Linked DNA regions of Homo sapiens: regions 2, 3, 4 and 5 are each reported to be linked to region 1. Evidence: microRNA targets listed by miRTarBase, many of them from high-throughput screens and not tested one by one. Region 1 holds a microRNA gene; each other region holds the end of a gene's coding sequence.

The links. Region 1 holds the annotated microRNA hsa-miR-6797-5p (AGGAGGGAAGGGGCUGAGAACAGGA, at 2,315-2,339, shown strand). A microRNA usually pairs through its seed, bases 2 to 8, with sites in the 3' UTR of a target mRNA and lowers its output. Matches are read on the target gene's strand: a 7mer-m8 pairs with bases 2 to 8, a 7mer-A1 pairs with bases 2 to 7 and ends in A, and an 8mer does both.
Region 2: miRTarBase lists FBXO44 as a target of hsa-miR-6797-5p. Seed matches in the 3' UTR shown: 7mer-m8 at 2,048-2,054.
Region 3: the mRNA of EMP1 is a reported target of hsa-miR-6797-5p. The part of its 3' UTR that is shown has no 7-base or 8-base seed match.
Region 4: the mRNA of PODXL is a reported target of hsa-miR-6797-5p. Seed matches in the 3' UTR shown: 7mer-A1 at 1,448-1,454.
Region 5: miRTarBase lists RAB1B as a target of hsa-miR-6797-5p. Seed matches in the 3' UTR shown: 7mer-m8 at 3,433-3,439 and 7mer-A1 at 2,672-2,678.

Annotation. Positions count from the first base shown.
Region 1 is chr19:41,867,318-41,871,381 of GRCh38, forward strand. MIR6797 (microRNA 6797) reads left to right here and starts at 2,310; the gene lies at 2,310-2,381. It overlaps RPS19 (ribosomal protein S19), which reads left to right. Exons shown (of 6, transcript NM_001022.4): 4 at 1,714-1,897; 5 at 2,382-2,436; 6 at 4,034-4,064. The coding sequence ends at 4,060. RefSeq lists an enhancer at 2,158-2,716.
Region 2 is chr1:11,660,821-11,664,884 of GRCh38, forward strand. FBXO44 (F-box protein 44) reads left to right here. Exons shown (of 6, transcript NM_033182.7): 6 at 310-2,507. The coding sequence ends at 453. FBXO6 (F-box protein 6) reads left to right here and starts at 3,380. Exons shown (of 6, transcript NM_018438.6): 1 at 3,380-3,435. RefSeq lists silencers at 3,446-3,665, 3,716-3,785 and an enhancer at 3,906-3,955.
Region 3 is chr12:13,214,089-13,218,152 of GRCh38, reverse strand. It overlaps EMP1 (epithelial membrane protein 1), which reads right to left. Exons shown (of 5, transcript NM_001423.3): 5 at 1-3,619. The coding sequence ends at 3,462. Among named protein-coding and RNA genes, the nearest start is that of EMP1, 19 kb to the right of the region's middle.
Region 4 is chr7:131,500,498-131,504,561 of GRCh38, reverse strand. It overlaps PODXL (podocalyxin like), which reads left to right. Exons shown (of 9, transcript NM_001018111.3): 9 at 54-4,064. The coding sequence ends at 251. Among named protein-coding and RNA genes, the nearest start is that of PODXL, 54 kb to the left of the region's middle.
Region 5 is chr11:66,275,924-66,279,987 of GRCh38, reverse strand. RAB1B (RAB1B, member RAS oncogene family) reads right to left here. Exons shown (of 6, transcript NM_030981.3): 5 at 4,053-4,064; 6 at 2,496-3,944. The coding sequence ends at 3,750. It overlaps CNIH2 (cornichon family AMPA receptor auxiliary protein 2), which reads right to left and starts at 1,813. Exons shown (of 6, transcript NM_182553.3): 1 at 1,451-1,813. The coding sequence starts at 1,531. It overlaps LOC107984340 (a long non-coding RNA gene), which reads left to right and starts at 1,463. Exons shown (of 2, transcript XR_001748274.1): 1 at 1,463-1,493. RefSeq lists a silencer at 1,708-2,037.

The DNA.
Region 1 (4,064 bases):
TTTTGAGACAGAGTCTCACTCTGTCACCCAGTCTGGAGTGCAGTGGCATGATCTTGGCTAACTGCAACCTCTGCCTCCCAGGTTCAAGTGATTCTCCTGCCCTGCCTCAGCCTCCCAGGTAGCTGGGGTTACAGCGGGTGTGCCACCACACCTGGCTAATTTTCTTGTAATTTCAGTAGAGATGGGGTTTCACCATGTTGGCCAGGCTGGTCTCAAACTCCTGACCTCAGGTGATTCTCCCGCCTCAGCCTCCCAAAGTGGTGGGATTACAGGCGTGAGCCACTGCGCCCGGCCTGATCCCATATATTTTAAATCATCTGTAGATTACTTATAGATTAATACAGGCCAGACATGGCACATACTTATAGTCCCAGCTACTTAGGAGGCTGAGGCAAGAGGATTGCTTAAGCCCAGGAGTTCGAGGCTGCAGTGAGCTATGATCACACCACAGCACCCCAGCCTGGGTGACAGAATGAGGCCCTTTTTTTGTGTTTTAAGAAAAAAGAAAAAGCACTAATACGGTGTAAATAATTGTTACACTGTTTTGAATTGTAGTTTTTTTCCCCTAAATATTTTTGATCCACCCTTGGTTGAGTCTGTGGATATGAAGGGCTGGCTGTATCTGGACCTGATCTCAGGGCAGGAGTGGGCTGGGAACAAGCGGTGTGTAAGAACTGTTTCTGGGCAGAAGCAGCCCACCCCACACAGACTACTGCCTGGCACTTGGCAGTTATGGAAGAACCCCCAATTCCCCCACTTGATCTTTAGAACTAGAGGAAAGAAATCACTAGAGCAGACTCAGACCAACTTGCTGATCTCTGGGTCCCAGGAACAAACCAGACTCTGCTCTGAGCTCCAGAGCTAGGCAGGACCATGTGATGGCTGAAATCTGGGTGCTTCCTGCATGTGGGCCCCGGTGCCATCACAGTGGCAGGACAGGGCAGTTCCTCCAGAGCTGTGTGACACGGAGCCAGTGAGTACCCTCTGGCACCTCAGTTTCACTCTTTAAAGGAGAGTAGCACTTGACACACCTGTTGAGTCCTCAGAGTAACCCGGCCCTCAGGTGAAGAAGGGTGGAGAGATCGAAAAGCATTTGGCACAGGGCCTGGCAGATGTGTGCTCCAGTTAATAGAAGCGTGCAAGCGTTTCTGGGGAGGCTGGTGTGTCGACTGGATTTTACGGAGCTTTTTTTGCAGGCAAGGAGGCTGGCTGGGGTGGACCAGGGACTTGCCCAAGCCAGCCTTCCCTGTGTCTGCAGAGGGGCTGGTACACATTCCAAGCAGGGGGCACCCACTGCACAGAGTGTCTGCCCTGCCCTTGTTATCCTGAGCTCTCCAGACTGAGGTGGCCCGGAGAGTGGCAATAGGTCCCTTCACTCCTGCTTCTCTGGGGCCCATGGAGATGGTCACAGCTAGGCTCCACCCCTACATAACCTCAGGTTCAATTCAACAGCAGTGCTGCTGGGATAGTAACCACTAAAGAAGTTGGCCCTGGAGATGGTGGGAGTGCCCACCCAGGGTGCAGGGCTGTTTGTCAAGGAAGAGCTAGCCGGGGGGGTGGGTGAGGAGAGGGGGCTGTCAGTTTCTGGGTGTTAGTGTGTGTTTTCAGTTTCCCTTCTTATAAAACAGTGAGAATTAGCTGTTTACACACAAGGAATTGTTTACCTGAGACCTTGATCAAGACCCTTAAATCTCCCTCTCACACTACCCCCAGCTTCCACAGCGCGGCACCTGTACCTCCGGGGTGGCGCTGGGGTTGGCTCCATGACCAAGATCTATGGGGGACGTCAGAGAAACGGCGTCATGCCCAGCCACTTCAGCCGAGGCTCCAAGAGTGTGGCCCGCCGGGTCCTCCAAGCCCTGGAGGGGCTGAAAATGGTGGAAAAGGACCAAGATGGGTAAGCAGGGTAGAGGGGGCTGCATTGATGGAGTAGCCTTGAGGCCCGGTCATCAATTCCCCAACGAATGGTCCTGCATAGTCTGCCCAGCCCCTCAGGCCCCTCCTATCAGAGGCAGGCAGGAGGGGATTCTGCAGAAAAGCAAACAGCACGGGGCCTCACCCCGACCTCTCTGGCTGACTAGCCCAGGCTCCAGGAGGGTAATTTAGCGACTATCTGCTTTCATTAGCCTGCTCGTTAACTTTTCCCAATTGATTTTTCGGGGCTTTTGATCTAAATGCTTGCACAAACAACACCCCGTCAGCTCCCAGGGGGGCTCCCACTACTGCCCCCAGCTCGTTAGAATGCACCTGACTAGGGCCCTCAGTGGGACTTGGCTGGCGGCAGGTGGCTTTTTGAGAAGCCTGGCTCACAGCCAGGAGGGAAGGGGCTGAGAACAGGACCTGTGCTCACTGGGGCCTGCATGACCCTTCCCTCCCCACAGCGGCCGCAAACTGACACCTCAGGGACAAAGAGATCTGGACAGAATCGCCGGACAGGTAAGGCCTGCGTTTGGGGTGGGGCTGGGTCCCTTAGTCGCTGCCCAAGCATTTCCAAAGCCCATACTTTGTCAGGTAGACTTATTTCCTTCTCTGGAGGGCACAGCCCAGGGTGCTGGTGGGGTCAGAGGAGGGCTGCCCAGAGACAGGAGAAAGGACAGTCCTGTCTGACTTTTCCTGTTGGTGCTGCTTAGAAATTTGGAGGCAGGCTGGCTGTGGTGTCTCACCCCTGTAATCCCAGCACTTTGGGATGCCGAGGCAGGCGAATTATCTGAGGTCAGGAGTTCAAGACCATTCTGACCAACATGGAGAAACCCTGTCTCTACTAAAAATACAAAATTAGCCGGGTGTGGTGGCACATTCCTGTAATCTCAGCTACTGGGGAGGCTGAGGCACAAAAATCACTTGAACCCGGGAGGTGGAGGCTGCGGTGAGCCAAGATCATGCCATTGCACCCCAGCCTGGGCAACAAGAGTGAAACTCCATCTCAAAAAAAAAAAAATTGGAGGGAACTCCAGCCCAGGTGCCACTGGGCATCTATCCACAGAGCACATAGCTGTACCCGTAGATGACTCCCCCTCCCCAGGTCAGCCTGCGATGTTTCCCCTTAGTCCTCATGCGTACTGAGCATCACATGGGCTGCTTGGGAGAGGTGGAGATAAGGGAGGGGGGCTGGTTCAGAACCCAGGTCTCCATTCAGATCCTGGCTGGCCAACACCCTGGGGCAGAGTGGCCACACCCCTGGTGCCACAGTCTCCTGTCTTGGCCTCCCTGTGGCCAAAATCTACCCTTGGCCACCTCAAGCATGGTAGTGAGGAGTCAGTGAGCTATAGTACAGCAGGAGCACCCAGGGCCTGGCATGAGCTCAATTCTGTATCACTGACTCAGGCCTCCTAGGAGCCTTGGAGCATTTAGTCAGTCAAGTGTCACAAAAGAATGGAAAGTGTCAGCCCTCTAGGAGTTGGGGGTGGTCTGGAAGGAGAAAGCTCTTCCAGGCAGAGTGGGGCTTGGCGCACACATCATTGCTGGTGGTTGGATGTTGGCCTTCTCACATGGCAGTGGGCGGAATTTGGACTCCACTCCGCCACTCCCTTCCTTTTTTTTTTTTTTTTTTTTTTTTTTTTTTTGAGACAGAGTCTTGCTCTGTCGCCCAGGCTGGAGTGCAGTGGTGCAATGTCAGCTCACTGCAACCTCTGCCACCTGGGTTCAAGCAATTCTCCTATCTCAGCTTCCCGAGTAGCTGGGACTACAGGCACACACCACCACACCTGGCTAGTTTTTATATTTTTAGTAGAGACAGGGTTTCACCATATTGGTCAGGCTGGTCTCGAACTCTTGACCTCAGGTGATCCACCTGCCTCGGCCTTCCAGAGTGCTGGGATTAAAGGTGTGAGCCACTGTGCCTGGCCACTCCCTTGAGACTCAGTTTCCACGTCTGTGAAATGGGGGAATACCCACAGTGAGAATTAGATGAGATAGATGCATTTGAAACCACAAATCGGGGTGCCCACCTGTGGTGGGTAGTTAGGTAGCTGTTACAAAGTGCCCCAGCAGAGACCCCCTTGACTAACTTTTATTCTTCCATCTTTTCCCACAGGTGGCAGCTGCCAACAAGAAGCATTAGAACA
Region 2 (4,064 bases), not on the chromosome of region 1:
TGTTGCCCAGGCTGGAGCGCAGTGACGTGATCACAGCTCACTGCAGTCTTGAACTCCTACTTTAGCCTGTACTCCTGCCTCAGCCTGCCTAGAACTACAGGCACACACCACCATGCCTGGCTAATTTTTTTTTTCTTGTAGAGATGGTATCTCACTCTCTGGTTTGCGACAAGACTAGTTGCAAACTCCTGGGCTCAAACAACCCTCCCACCTCAGCCTCCCAAAGTACTGGGATTCCCGGTGTGAGCCGCCACACCCAGCCTGAGTCAGCTCCCTTGACCTTTCTCCCCCCTCTACCTGCCCTGCCAGGTCTCCCACACATTCTCCAACTACCCGCCCGGCGTCCGCTACATCTGGTTTCAGCACGGCGGCGTGGACACTCATTACTGGGCCGGCTGGTACGGCCCGAGGGTCACCAACAGCAGCATCACCATCGGGCCCCCGCTGCCCTGACACCCCCTGAGCCCCCATCTGCTGAACCCTGACTGGTAAACAACTGCTGTCAGAAAAGGGCTGGGCTTGGGAAGGGGAGGTGGAGGCCAGGTGTCCCCAGACCTCTAACCCTTGCCCCTAGCAGCCTCTTCTTTGTGGAGCCTCTCAGTGTGGGCAGCCCTCGCATGCTGGGGTCGGGCCAGCTCTCCCCGAAAGGTCTTGACCTGAATGATGGCCGGGGAAGCCTGCGTGTGCCCCTTTCAGAGACGGAGCACCTGAGATGTGGGAGGTGCAGCATGTTCCCCTGGGCCCCTCAGAAAGTCGAGCTTGGAGGCCAGCCTGGATCTGTCTCTCCCTTCCCCTCCTGGGACCATTCTACCTGTGTTCTTTGACCCTCGGAGCAGGGACAGGCAAGACAACTGGCAAGCTTGCAGCTGCCCTGATGGTGCAGGTGCAGGGAGGTGACCATGTAACTCTGACCAATCTGGGAAGTGGAGGGTGGGCTCATGGGCCGTGCTCTGCCCCTGTCTGCTGCTCCCAGTCTCTCGCTCTGCCTGCCTGCTCAGAAGAGGTGGCTTTGGCCCAGAGGCTCAGGCCGGGACTGAGATGGACAGACCCAGGGTGGGGTGGGGTCCAGGTCGGGTGTGGACTGTCCTCACTGTCAGTGGAGCCCCAGAAGCTAGATGGGTACCAGGTGGGGTTAGGTTCCCAGAGGACTGAGGGAATCCTGTACAGGATGTCCCAGGGTAGATGGGGAGCAGGATTGGGACCTGCTCTGACAGCTGGACACATGAGCCCTGGATGAGTATGGTAGGGGGTTTGAAGAATCCCCTGTCCACCTCCCAAATCCAGGCCCGGCCCCCTCTGGCTTGGAGAGCATTCCAAGCCCCCACCCCACCCCTAGAACTGCCATTCCCAAGACCTCTGTCTCCCAGCCAACCACCCTTGGAACTTGCCTCTTGTCCTGCTGGAAAGATAGCAGTGTTCTCCTGACTTCGCCCTACTGCATGCAGCCAAATAAAAGGTGTGCCCAGTCTAACCTGTGCCCTGTGGTTTCTGGAAGGAAAGGCAGACTTTAGGTGGTCCTGCCTGGACCTGCAGATGGTACAATGGCATGGCTTCTGTCTAAGGTACAGAGGGGTTGGCATTTCAGGAACCAGGCCATCACAGAAACAGGTTCATGGGCAGACCCCTCAGTGAGCTGCAGGTATCTCACCTGGCAGCCGTCCAGTACTGCTGGCTTCCTCTGGAGGCCCAGCCACAGGCTGGGGTTGGGGTGTGTGGACATCTCTGGGCAGCTCTTGAGTCCACCTTGTGCCAGATCAGCAGTGCCACCCAGGCTCTGCCTCCTGGTGTTACTCTTTGCCAACAGCTTTACGGACATTGGATGAAGCCGAAGCATTTAGAATGGTGCCTGGCACACAGTTGGTGCGTGATATGGTTAAGCTTTGTGTCCCCACCCACATCTCATCTTGAATGGTAATCCTGGGTGTTTAGGGAGAGACCTGGTGGGAAGTGATTGGATTATGGGAGCGGTTTTCCCCCATGCTGTTCTCATGATAGTGAGTGAGTTCTCACGAGATCTGATGGTTTTACAAGTGACGGTTTCCCCGGCTCCCTCCTGCCGCCATGTGAAGAAGGTCGTTGCTTCCCCTTCACCTTCCACCACCATGATTGTAAGTTCCTTTTTTCTTTTCTTTTCTTTTTTTTTTTTTTTTTTTTGAGATGGAGTCTCGCTCTGTCGCCCAGGCTGGAGTGCAGTGGCGCAATCTCAGCTCACTGCAAGCTCTGCCTCCCAGGTTCGCGCCATTCACCTGCCTCAGCCTCTGGAGTAGCTGAGACTACAGGCGCCCACCACCATGCCCGGCTAATTTTGTTTGTATTTTTAGTAGAGATGGAGTTTCACCATGTTGGCCAGGGTGGTCTCAATCTCCTGACCTCGTGATCCACCCACCTCGACCTCCCAAAGTGCTGAGATTACAGGCGTGAGCCACCGCGCCCAGCGATTGTTTCTTGAGGCTTCCCCAGCCATATGGAACTATAAGTCAATTAAACCTCTTTCCTTTTATAAATCACCCAGTCTCGGGTATTTCTTTATAGCAGTGTGAACATGGACTATAATCCAGTGCTCAATAAGTACTCCTCACATTTAGCTATCTCAGTCAAGGGTGAGCTAGATAAGGGCTTTGGCCAGGGCAGGATCACCACCCACCAGCCCATGGCAAACTGCAAAAGGACGGCCTTCCACGGAGAACATGTAGCCCTGACTGCAATTAATGTGTCCTGGGCCAGTCCCCTTGTGCAGTACACAGCCTGCACAACCCTTGGTGGTTGCCTGAACAAGGTGCTTGCTAAATATTTGTTGACTGATGGAAGAAATTCATGAACTTAATCCTGATAAAAAACCTCAGAGGTTTTTTATTTTTTGAGACAAGGTCTGGCTCTGTCGCCCAGGCTGCAGTGCAGTGGTACAGTCTCCACTCACTGCAGCCTCCCAGGTTCAAGCGATTCTCCCACCTCAGCCTCCGGAGGAGCTGGGATTATAGACCTGTGCCACCACGCCCGGCTAATTTTTGTATATTTAGTAGAGACAGGGTTTTTGCCATGTTGGCCAGGCTGGTCTCGAACTCCTGACCTCAAGCGATCCTCCCCACCTCGGCCTCCCAAAGTGCTGGGATCACAGGCGTTAGCCACCTCCTAGCACCTCAGGTTTTTTACCTTTGAGTCTATGAAGCCTGCGGAGGTCACGCCCTAGGGAAAGAAGGAGCCCACTGGGTGTCAGGTCCTGCCTCTAGGGAGGGGACCGCGGGTCAAGGGTGGAGCCCTGGGCCGCATAAGGAAGGAACTAGTGCGGAGGTCCGGGGAGCGGCCGCGCGTTCGGGAGCTTCGGCCCTGCGTAGGAGGCGGGTGCAGGTGTGGGTGCTGAGCCGCCCGCCGCCTGGAGGGGGAGACAGCTTCAGGACACGCAGGCCGCAGCGAGGGCCCGGGCCCTGGGGATCCCAGGTTCGTCTTCCCGCGGCGAGGGTTAGGGGCCGGGCCGAGAGGGACGGCAGCGGGGTCCGGGGCGGGGGTGGGGACCGAGCGCAGCGCGTGACGCGGCGGCGGGGCCCAGCGACAACGAAGCCGAGGCCGTAGGCTCGGGCCGACCTGGAGCTCCGCCGCTGCGCCCAGGTCGCGTCCCCGGGGGGACGGGCGGCGGGCGAGTGGGGAGCCGGGGTCTCCGGCGCCTGGGCGTTCACGGAGCCTGCGGGCGCTGGTCCGGGCGGCCAGGGGTGGGGGGCGCGGGCGGCTGGGCCCGGACTTCGACTGGGGGCCTGGCCCCGGGGCCACCCAGGCGGAGGCTCTGCGGCCGCCTCCACCCCGGCCACATCCCGAGGCCGGCGCCGGGTTCGGAGAACTGTCAAGGGACCTCCAGGCCCCCACACGCCTGCGAGATCCGGCGCTTGCCTTGCCCCAGCCACAGTTTCTGTTTCCGAGAAACCGGTGAAGTAACAATGCCACTAGAGCTTGCTGGGAGGGTGGGTGCGGAGAAGGCGAGCACGAGACGCCGGGCCGGGCAGTTGGGGACCCCGATCGGTGTGAGAGGGCTTCCTAGGGCTGGCATGGACTTCCCCACCACAAAATGCCCAGGG
Region 3 (4,064 bases), not on the chromosome of region 1:
ATCCCTTGATGAATGAATAAGTTATCATTTGCCTTTGGGTCCCATTCTTGAGTGGTCATGGAGAGTTCTGTAGCTCACCCTCTTTATACTCATAATTTGCACAAATTTCACCTAAGAGTATTTACTTAACCACTTTAATTCAATTTGTCTCTACCTAAGACATTTAATTCAACAAATATTTTTTAAGCTTCTCTATAAAAGGGACTCTGGCAACTTTCAGACCCGCACTGTAGCACCAGCTCTCTGCTGGCCCACCCCTTGCAGACTTTGGGCTTGCCTGCCTTCAAAATCATGTGAGTCAATTCCTTAAAATAAATATATTTTTATTTATTTATATATATGTTTGCACACACACGCGAATCTTATTTTTTCTGTTTCTCTGGAGAATTCTGACTAATGCACCCCCATTCACCATCCAGGCTTTTGAGGAGAAAGATACCAATCTTAGCAGCAGAGGACACTCTGGATAGAGCTAGGAGTTTGTTGCAGAGTCTGACAAAAGTTCCCTCTGCAGAAGGGATGGAAGGATAGCCTTGGGGGTTGATTTAGGACTGGGTGTATGACATGGGGGAAAAGAAATCCCTGGGGGAGCTAAATGAGGGGAGGTGGACCCCTTATGATAGTTTATCAGAGCAATCTAAGAAATCATGTAGGCCTCTAAGAAAGCATCAAGAATCAATGCAATTTGATTAATTGACTTAAAATATGTTGAACTTTTCAGCCTCCATTGTGTATTTTTGGTGCAATACTCTGTGCAACTATTTCATCCAAGACCAGAAGGGGCTGGAAGATTGCCTGCTTCACATTAAAACCCTCCTTATTGTATTGGTGCTGACACGACACAAGGATATGCAGTCTTTATCCAGTCCTTATTGCTCACAGAAAGATACCAGTCCTTACTGCTCACAGAAAGTAGTGAAGCCTCCCTTCACTCACAGAGCCCACACAGGTATGCCCTGGTTTATGTAATGAATGGGCTGCTACAAATAGGTGTGATGCATGCCTTTGTGAATCACTTTATATTTTGAAGACACATTAGAGGAGCTGGCTATTTCAAAGAAATTTCACAAGTGCCTCATTTCTTAATGTCACAAGCATTTCTGATTTATAATCATAACCCCTTTCTAATGTATTAGCTTATGAAGTTCCATTTTTTGCCTAAGAGGTTTAATCAAAGCAAGATAAAACTATGCTTAATAATATTCAGTTACCTGAAAGAGCTATTGCAGAAATGCCTAATATATTACCAGAAAGTAGCTTAATGTCTCAAATAAATGTCAAGTTGTCCAAATCAAACTGATAGGCAGCTTAATGAGGGATAAATGTCATAATTATCCATATTTCTCCACATTTTTTTTAGAAAAAAACATTCACACAATGAAGGGAATCAGAATCTGTTTTTATATCCCTAGAGTTATAAACATTTGTATCAAAATATTTACAATTATAGTATATGAAATAATCTATTAACGAAGAAGCCCAATACAGTACTAGAACAATCCACCAGAGTAATGCAAATTACATGAGACATAAATGTCACAGAAAAAAAGTAAAAGATAAGGGAATACATGGTTTACTCCAGTCATAGTTCAACTTCTTAACAAAATGTGAGTATTCCCTTTGGATATGTCTGAAATGTAAGTATGTTTTTTGCACTAAGACAGCCTTCTATAATCATGTGATAATGAAATCATAATGACAAAGTTCATCTTCCCACAGTTTTTGCTGGCCAATCTCTCTAACCTCAGCCTAGGTAATTTGGTGGCTTGCCCTCAACATTTCCTTAACTAGAATAAACATAGAGAAATAGAATTAGTAATAATCCTTTTACATAAATACCAAAAATCATGGCATAACAACTCCCCAAAAAGGAAAGGTATAAAAGAAATGGATGAGGAGAAAGCTAATAAAGAAAAGTAGGCAAGATGTCTCAGATTCTCCCTGGGGTAGATCTTCTCAGGGCGATAAAGAAAACGTCTTCCCAAAAAACCCCTTTAGACAGAATCTGAGATGGCTTAAAATAGCTGCTCCAGGGCAAAGCAATGCCTGCTTAACCAGGAATAACATACTACTTCTAAGTCCTGTATAGAGGTGCTCCTGCGGCAGCAGACAGCTCGTCTACCATCTGACTAGGTACCACAAGAGTTTTTGCTTTTTTATTTTAAAGAAAAGATCTGCCCATCACCTATATTTTTATTTATCTCATGGGATTTTCGTATTTTCCTGGGAATGCAGGCACTCTGTTCTTATCATGGCTGAAATACGGTAGGCTTAATACTTCACAATTATATAGCACCTTTCACCCAAGGGCCTGTTGTTTGGTTTTGGTTTATGTGTGTTTTAATCAGCTTCCAGAATTGCCATGCCTCACCTGTGAAGTGGGATAGGCAGGGTCCCCAAGAGGTGATCACTCCAGGTGGTGTCTAAGCCAGAGCTACCACTGAGCCTAGGAGCCCTGATCCTCAATATTGATAATTAGACAAAACTTCCTCAAAAATGTTAGAGGAAGAGTAATAGGATTGTGCTACAATGAGCCATGTCCATCTCTCTCCTGTTGTATACTTAAAAGAAACACTGACTGCATTGAGGGGAATCCTAAAAACATAACCCTAACATGGCACTGTTGCAAGACTGCCCCTTGGATCCCATAGTTTGTGTGGTACTTTTACCACCGAATTGTTCACTAGTGACTTTAGAGAAACTCCAGAAGAGCTGCCTTGGCTTTCAGCAAGAGGCCTAGCAAAGACCATGGCATGAGGTCTCCATGAGGGACAGCCGTGTGTGAGGTCTCGACTGGGCTCTGACCATCCCCCAGGTTTTCCATTGTGAAAAGGTCTCCTTCTTGGTTTAGCTAACCCACCAGCATGACCTTACAAACTCTCTTTCCTCCTCCCATTTTGTCACTGAATTCCACAGAGCTAAATATCTGTTCCAAAGAGGGACAATGGCTCACAGGCCAAAGCCCCCCAGTAGGCACTTCAGACTGGAATGTGATGTTTTGCTTTGGGTCAGAAGGGCAGGATGGCTTCCAGGCTTAGCGTATTCAGCACAAAGACAGTATCTGCTCTTGCCAGAACTTGTACCGCTATTTTAACTCAGTGCAGTAGGTCTGTGGACCTCAGTGCATGACCCAGAAGTGGGGCTGGTGTTGTGGCAGCTGATGGGGCCCCAGACAGTGTGTGTCACTAAGAACAGCTGGAGGCCAAGTCTGGTGGCTGCAGGGAGGCTCTCTGGACCCCATCAAGGGAGCATCAAAGTACTAGCCAACTACTTTCTCCCCAGGGCAGGGGCTTGGCAGTAGAGAATCCCCTCAGTAATGGTTTGGGATTTGACCTCCCCCCTTTGCTTCCCCCTCCCCCCTCCCCTATCTCGGTTTTTCCTGTACAGCAACCTCCACTTCCCTCCCAGATTCAACGGCTTCCTCCTCCCCACCCCCCAGATCCCCATGAACTCGTCCGGCCTTATTTCTTTCTCAGGACCAGATAGAGAACGCCGATGATGAAGCTGAAGCAGAAGCAGATCCAGCCCAGGATGTAGGAATAGCCGTGGTGATACTGCGTTCCATCACGATTCGCATAATGACTAGTGTAGATGGACACCCCCACAAGAATGCACAGCCCTGCAGGGGAAAAGGAGATTTGTCGGTGTGTTTTCTTACATTAAAGTCGAGAAAAAGTTTTACTAATTTTAAGAAGATCCTATTTCCCTCATTAGCAATAGGAAAATGAATTCTGCTTGTTTGTCCCTAAACAGGAGTTCTGATGGATGTCCCCTGGGCCAAGCTCGACGGTATGTTGATAAATTAGAGGTGTCTGGGCTCTCATGTCTGCACTGGTTTGTGTGGCCACGCTGTGATGTAAAACACAGAACCTCATGCCTACCACCCAGCTGTCCTGTCTGGCCCTTGTGGGTCTAGGAAAGCTACTCAGGGATGCAAAAGAGCATGTCCTTCCACCAAACCGAGTATATTGGGAAAGAACAACAATTAAGTGAGAATCACAATAATGATGTGCATTGTGGCAGTGGTTTCATCTTTCTGAGAACTCCTACCTTTCTGCCTTCTT
Region 4 (4,064 bases), not on the chromosome of region 1:
AAGCTCAGAGCCCTCTGAAACCCCCTTCTCACCGGTCACCTTCCCCACTCTAGCAGCGGCTAACAGAGGAGCTGCAGACAGTGGAGAATGGTTACCATGACAACCCAACACTGGAAGTGATGGAGACCTCTTCTGAGATGCAGGAGAAGAAGGTGGTCAGCCTCAACGGGGAGCTGGGGGACAGCTGGATCGTCCCTCTGGACAACCTGACCAAGGACGACCTGGATGAGGAGGAAGACACACACCTCTAGTCCGGTCTGCCGGTGGCCTCCAGCAGCACCACAGAGCTCCAGACCAACCACCCCAAGTGCCGTTTGGATGGGGAAGGGAAAGACTGGGGAGGGAGAGTGAACTCCGAGGGGTGTCCCCTCCCAATCCCCCCAGGGCCTTAATTTTTCCCTTTTCAACCTGAACAAATCACATTCTGTCCAGATTCCTCTTGTAAAATAACCCACTAGTGCCTGAGCTCAGTGCTGCTGGATGATGAGGGAGATCAAGAAAAAGCCACGTAAGGGACTTTATAGATGAACTAGTGGAATCCCTTCATTCTGCAGTGAGATTGCCGAGACCTGAAGAGGGTAAGTGACTTGCCCAAGGTCAGAGCCACTTGGTGACAGAGCCAGGATGAGAACAAAGATTCCATTTGCACCATGCCACACTGCTGTGTTCACATGTGCCTTCCGTCCAGAGCAGTCCCGGGCAGGGGTGAAACTCCAGCAGGTGGCTGGGCTGGAAAGGAGGGCAGGGCTACATCCTGGCTCGGTGGGATCTGACGACCTGAAAGTCCAGCTCCCAAGTTTTCCTTCTCCTACCCCAGCCTCGTGTACCCATCTTCCCACCCTCTATGTTCTTACCCCTCCCTACACTCAGTGTTTGTTCCCACTTACTCTGTCCTGGGGCCTCTGGGATTAGCACAGGTTATTCATAACCTTGAACCCCTTGTTCTGGATTCGGATTTTCTCACATTTGCTTCGTGAGATGGGGGCTTAACCCACACAGGTCTCCGTGCGTGAACCAGGTCTGCTTAGGGGACCTGCGTGCAGGTGAGGAGAGAAGGGGACACTCGAGTCCAGGCTGGTATCTCAGGGCAGCTGATGAGGGGTCAGCAGGAACACTGGCCCATTGCCCCTGGCACTCCTTGCAGAGGCCACCCACGATCTTCTTTGGGCTTCCATTTCCACCAGGGACTAAAATCTGCTGTAGCTAGTGAGAGCAGCGTGTTCCTTTTGTTGTTCACTGCTCAGCTGATGGGAGTGATTCCCTGAGACCCAGTATGAAAGAGCAGTGGCTGCAGGAGAGGCCTTCCCGGGGCCCCCCATCAGCGATGTGTCTTCAGAGACAATCCATTAAAGCAGCCAGGAAGGACAGGCTTTCCCCTGTATATCATAGGAAACTCAGGGACATTTCAAGTTGCTGAGAGTTTTGTTATAGTTGTTTTCTAACCCAGCCCTCCACTGCCAAAGGCCAAAAGCTCAGACAGTTGGCAGACGTCCAGTTAGCTCATCTCACTCACTCTGATTCTCCTGTGCCACAGGAAAAGAGGGCCTGGAAAGCGCAGTGCATGCTGGGTGCATGAAGGGCAGCCTGGGGGACAGACTGTTGTGGGAACGTCCCACTGTCCTGGCCTGGAGCTAGGCCTTGCTGTTCCTCTTCTCTGTGAGCCTAGTGGGGCTGCTGCGGTTCTCTTGCAGTTTCTGGTGGCATCTCAGGGGAACACAAAGCTATGTCTATTCCCCAATATAGGACTTTTATGGGCTCGGCAGTTAGCTGCCATGTAGAAGGCTCCTAAGCAGTGGGCATGGTGAGGTTTCATCTGATTGAGAAGGGGGAATCCTGTGTGGAATGTTGAACTTTCGCCATGGTCTCCATCGTTCTGGGCGTAAATTCCCTGGGATCAAGTAGGAAAATGGGCAGAACTGCTTAGGGGAATGAAATTGCCATTTTTCGGGTGAAACGCCACACCTCCAGGGTCTTAAGAGTCAGGCTCCGGCTGTAGTAGCTCTGATGAAATAGGCTATCCACTCGGGATGGCTTACTTTTTAAAAGGGTAGGGGGAGGGGCTGGGGAAGATCTGTCCTGCACCATCTGCCTAATTCCTTCCTCACAGTCTGTAGCCATCTGATATCCTAGGGGAAAAGGAAGGCCAGGGGTTCACATAGGGCCCCAGCGAGTTTCCCAGGAGTTAGAGGGATGCGAGGCTAACAAGTTCCAAAAACATCTGCCCCGATGCTCTAGTGTTTGGAGGTGGGCAGGATGGAGAACAGTGCCTGTTTGGGGGAAAACAGGAAATCTTGTTAGGCTTGAGTGAGGTGTTTGCTTCCTTCTTGCCCAGCGCTGGGTTCTCTCCACCCAGTAGGTTTTCTGTTGTGGTCCCGTGGGAGAGGCCAGACTGGATTATTCCTCCTTTGCTGATCCTGGGTCACACTTCACCAGCCAGGGCTTTTGACGGAGACAGCAAATAGGCCTCTGCAAATCAATCAAAGGCTGCAACCCTATGGCCTCTTGGAGACAGATGATGACTGGCAAGGACTAGAGAGCAGGAGTGCCTGGCCAGGTCGGTCCTGACTCTCCTGACTCTCCATCGCTCTGTCCAAGGAGAACCCGGAGAGGCTCTGGGCTGATTCAGAGGTTACTGCTTTATATTCGTCCAAACTGTGTTAGTCTAGGCTTAGGACAGCTTCAGAATCTGACACCTTGCCTTGCTCTTGCCACCAGGACACCTATGTCAACAGGCCAAACAGCCATGCATCTATAAAGGTCATCATCTTCTGCCACCTTTACTGGGTTCTAAATGCTCTCTGATAATTCAGAGAGCATTGGGTCTGGGAAGAGGTAAGAGGAACACTAGAAGCTCAGCATGACTTAAACAGGTTGTAGCAAAGACAGTTTATCATCAGCTCTTTCAGTGGTAAACTGTGGTTTCCCCAAGCTGCACAGGAGGCCAGAAACCACAAGTATGATGACTAGGAAGCCTACTGTCATGAGAGTGGGGAGACAGGCAGCAAAGCTTATGAAGGAGGTACAGAATATTCTTTGCGTTGTAAGACAGAATACGGGTTTAATCTAGTCTAGGCACCAGATTTTTTTCCCGCTTGATAAGGAAAGCTAGCAGAAAGTTTATTTAAACCACTTCTTGAGCTTTATCTTTTTTGACAATATACTGGAGAAACTTTGAAGAACAAGTTCAAACTGATACATATACACATATTTTTTTGATAATGTAAATACAGTGACCATGTTAACCTACCCTGCACTGCTTTAAGTGAACATACTTTGAAAAAGCATTATGTTAGCTGAGTGATGGCCAAGTTTTTTCTCTGGACAGGAATGTAAATGTCTTACTGGAAATGACAAGTTTTTGCTTGATTTTTTTTTTTAAACAAAAAATGAAATATAACAAGACAAACTTATGATAAAGTATTTGTCTTGTAGATCAGGTGTTTTGTTTTGTTTTTTTAATTTTAAAATGCAACCCTGCCCCCTCCCCAGCAAAGTCACAGCTCCATTTCAGTAAAGGTTGGAGTCAATATGCTCTGGTTGGCAGGCAACCCTGTAGTCATGGAGAAAGGTATTTCAAGATCTAGTCCAATCTTTTTCTAGAGAAAAAGATAATCTGAAGCTCACAAAGATGAAGTGACTTCCTCAAAATCACATGGTTCAGGACAGAAACAAGATTAAAACCTGGATCCACAGACTGTGCGCCTCAGAAGGAATAATCGGTAAATTAAGAATTGCTACTCGAAGGTGCCAGAATGACACAAAGGACAGAATTCCTTTCCCAGTTGTTACCCTAGCAAGGCTAGGGAGGGCATGAACACAAACATAAGAACTGGTCTTCTACACTTTCTCTGAATCATTTAGGTTTAAGATGTAAGTGAACAATTCTTTCTTTCTGCCAAGAAACAAAGTTTTGGATGAGCTTTTATATATGGAACTTACTCCAACAGGACTGAGGGACCAAGGAAACATGATGGGGGAGGCAGAGAGGGCAAGAGTAAAACTGTAGCATAGCTTTTGTCACGGTCACTAGCTGATCCCTCAGGTCTGCTGCAAACACAGCATGG
Region 5 (4,064 bases), not on the chromosome of region 1:
GCCCCCAGCTCCCTCCAGTCCTTAGAACCCTAGCCCTCCTGCCCCTACCCCACAGAAAGAAAAATAGAGTAACTCGGGGTGCGGGGGAGAGGGGGAAAGACAAAGCAACCAAGACCCAGAGAGAGAGCAGAGCCAGGCCAAGGAGTGACAGGGCTGGAGCTGGGGTGTGTGCTGAGGTGCCTTTGGGGGCTCACTCTTCACACAGTAGGGGTTCAGTCTATGGATTCCCGATGTCAAAGAGCAAGGTGGCAGGGGATGGCAAAGGGAGCGCAGGGGGAACCATGGAGCAGGCGGCAGGTCCCAGGAAGAGAAAGGAGAGAGGAAGTGGAGAGCCCGGGAAAGAAGCAGGTGAGGCACCGGGAGGAAGGAGGGAAGGGCTATGGGAAATGGGATTGAGGGAGGGATAAGAGGACCCCTGAAAGGGAATGACAATCAGGGAGGTGTGCGCGGGAGGTGTGAGCAGAGGATGCTGAGCTGAGCCAGCCAGGGCCGAGCTGGGCAGGCTGTTACAGAAACAGGCACGGGGTTTGGGTGGGGGTGGGGACGGAGGGCAGTAAAGTGGGGCCAGGGGCCCCCAACAACCAGCTGGAGGCTGATTGATAGTTCTGTAGTGAGGGGACGGGAGCCAGGCAGAGGAGGCCCTGGAGGAGAGGAGCGGGAGGGGAGGAGGAGGGAGCCTGGGGGAAGCGATGGGTCGGATGCAGGATGAGGAATGGACATTTTGAAGAACCAGGTGTGAGGCTAGGCCAGGGCGAGGGACAGACCAAGGGGTATGTGAGAGACAAAGGGGAAGGGGGACAGGAAGAGGAGGGAAGCTGGAAAATGGAGAGGAAACCTGGGGGGCTGGGAAGCCCCCAACAGGAGGGGTAGGGAAACCCAAGGTGAGCCGGTGGTGGGGGCTAGGTCTCTGGGGGCTGATGAGAGCCAACTGCTGCTTGGTCAGGGAGGGGGCTGGGAAGGCAAAGGGTTAATGGACTCTGAGATCTGTGGGTCCTGTAAACAGATGCAGTTGCCATAGCAACCAGCTCCATCACTCTGGCTGGAAAAACCCACAAAGGCGGGGGGGGGGGGGCAGCAGACAGACAAACTGCCCGACGGACTAATGGAGGCGGCTGGATGGTGGTGGGGGGGGACATAGAAGATAAAGCAACAAAAATGCCAGAATTCCACCCCCCACCTCACGGGCTGCATGGGAGCAGAGGACGAGGGCAGAGGAGGGGGTCAGAGACCGACTGACATACACACAGACAGGCGGGGGCGGCGGAGGAAGGGGGGCCCCGGGAAGAAAGCCGACCACGGGGGGTGTTAATGGGGGCGAAGCCGACAAGCCGACGGCTGGGGGATAGCAAGTTTCCCCTGGGCTCTGAGACCACCCGCCCTGGGTCCCTCCAGCTCCGCGTGGCCCCTGCCCCCCACCCCGCCCCCAGCCCCAGCCCCAGCCCGGCCTTACGTGCCAGATGACAAAGAAGATGAGGGAGGCGCACAGCACCAGGGTGAGCATGTAGCAGAACGCGGCGAAGGTGAACGCCATGGCCCCCGCGCCGGGCGGCGGCCCGGGGGGCGCCAGCGCGGGGCCCGGGCGCAAGGGGACGCCCCCCGGCCCGCGCTTAGGGCCGGCCGGGCATGGCCCGTGGGGCTCGGGGGACGTGGGTGATGCGGCCGGGACCGGGACCGCGGGGCCGTGGGGGGCGCGGGGCGCGGGCCGGTGGGCTCGGGGGGCGCGTCCGCTGCCGGCTGCCCGGGCCCCGATCGCTCATCCTGCGATCCCTCGCCCGCGGCTCCCTCGCTCTCCAGCCCGCGAAGCCGGCGGGGCGGAGCCGGGGGCGGGGCCGCCGCGCGAGCGGCCTCGGGCGGGGCTGGGTCTCCGCGGGCCCCTCGTCTGCCCGCCCGGCTCGGGCGCCACCCCCAGCCCCGACAAGCCCGCGGCCGTTCACCCTCCGGACAGCGTAGACGCGGCCGCCCCCGGCACCCCGCACCCCTCGGCACTCCAGCCACCGGCACAGCCGCACTCGGCCCCCTCGGGCGGGCGCTCAGGGCAAAGGCTGAAGTGCGAGGCACTTGTCACTGTCGGAGACGGCAGAAGCACCTGGCTGGGACACACAATGACGCCAGGACAGGGGCTGAATGGGAGCAGTGGGGTTTTGGGGGGCGCTGAAGGAGGTTGGGCCAGGTGCAGTGGGGGCCCTCTCAGCGGCTGCGCGACCCCACACCTCTGCCGTGTGCCCCGCGGGAGTTGGCGGCGGCACGCCAGGTATGAGCTGATGGCCGCCTGCCTCTTTCCCTGACAGAACGGTGCTGGGCCCTTGGGGACAGACCACAGAAGCACAAGCAGCTTTCCTGGCCTCAGGAAACGGGGTCAAGGGCTTTTGCCAGCAGCCTTAGGACACAGAAACCAAGCCAGGACCCCCGTGCACCCCACCAAGCCCAGGGTTCCAGTTCCATCCCCCCACCCCAAGGCTGGGCTTAGACCACAGACCACACTTGGCCACCACAACTTCCTTGCAAAAACCCTCAGCTCACCCGAGGGCCAATGGAAATTTATTAATTTTTTTTGTCCTTTTCCATCTTTCCCCAAGTGGCTTTTCCTTGCAAAATGCCTGACATGACACCAGAGGGGAACCTGGGAGCGGGGGGCACCCCAAGGGGGCAGCCCAGGGACTTAAATACAAGCTGGAGGGCAGGGCACAGGTGGGACAGGCAAGAGACAGCACGAGGGACATGGCTTCTCAGGGAGACCAAAGACTTGCTTTCTTGCAGGAAGCAGCTGTGCCAGAGGGCAGGGGACTAGGATCCTGGGTGCAGAGTGGGTGAGCAGAGAGGCCCCCAATCCTGGATGGAACCCACATTCCCCAGAGAAGTAGCGGCAGGGGATGAGGGCCTTCCCTGGTGGGCTCCAGAGACGGAGTGGGGAGTGAGCCAGATGTGCTACCTTGGGGAAAGGGAGGAGGTGCTAGCAGAGTGAGGGTTAAGGCTGGTGCCCAGCCTCTGGCACGGTGGGCCTTCCGCCTCCGCCTGACATGGGGACAAAGGGGCACGGTGGGCAGGCAGCGCATGGGTCTGTCTCTGGCAGGGCAGAGGGCGGCAGGAGCAGACTCCCTCCAGGCTCAAGACACAGGCCCAGCACTGCTACCCGCCCACCCGCCCTAGATATACTCAGATCCCACCGCAGCTGGACGGCTCGAGCTGGGAGTGTAGGAAGGGAGAGGAGGCAGTGGGGAGAGGAAAGGGTGGGCTGCTGGGCCCCTGTGGCCTCCATGCCTGTCCTGAGGTCCAGCCCAGGGCCCTGGATCCCAGGTCCTGGATCCCCTGGCCACATTCCTCGCCCTGGGCACTGACTGCAGCCAGGGCAGTAGAGGCCGGGGAGACCCTCAGTTCTTGGGCAGGACAGCAGGAAGAAGAAGGAGAGAACCCAGTGCAGCATACATGGGGGTGGGAGGGACACCGACAGAAGAGCCCTCGTTCCAAAGAAAGGTGTGTAGGGGGGCATCTTGGAAAGTCACCTAGAGGCAACAGCACAGCAGGCCTCCGCCCTGCCTGGCCACAGGCCCTGAGTGTCCTCCCTTAGGGACCCTGACAGAACCGGGGCTCAGGGCAGCAGGCAGATGGGCCAGAAGGAGATGGGGAGCCCAGGACACCCCAAAGCCACAGACTCAAATGCCCCAGGAGAGGGAGAGGGAGGTACCTCCTGCCCCCTCCAGGGACATCATCTGGAGAAGGTGCCCCCTCCTGTCCCACTCCATGTGCCCCTCCTAGCAACAGCCACCGCCAGCCGGCTTTACAGGGGTGCTGTCGATCTTGAGATTGGGCCGCTCGCCCCCAGAGGCTGCTCCAGGCCCCATCCGCTTTTTGATTTCAGCAGCCATGGTCATGAACGCCTGCTCGACATTGGTGGCATTCTTGGCGCTCGTCTCCAAGAAGGGGATGCCCAGAGAGTCTGCAAACTCCTGACAAGGGAGAGGAGAGAAGAGGAGGGGAGAGAAGAGGAGGGGAGAGCAGGTGAGGGGCAGCAGGCCCCAGCGCCCCGACCCCGGGCAGACCGGCCCGTCTGCTACCTTGGCTGTGGT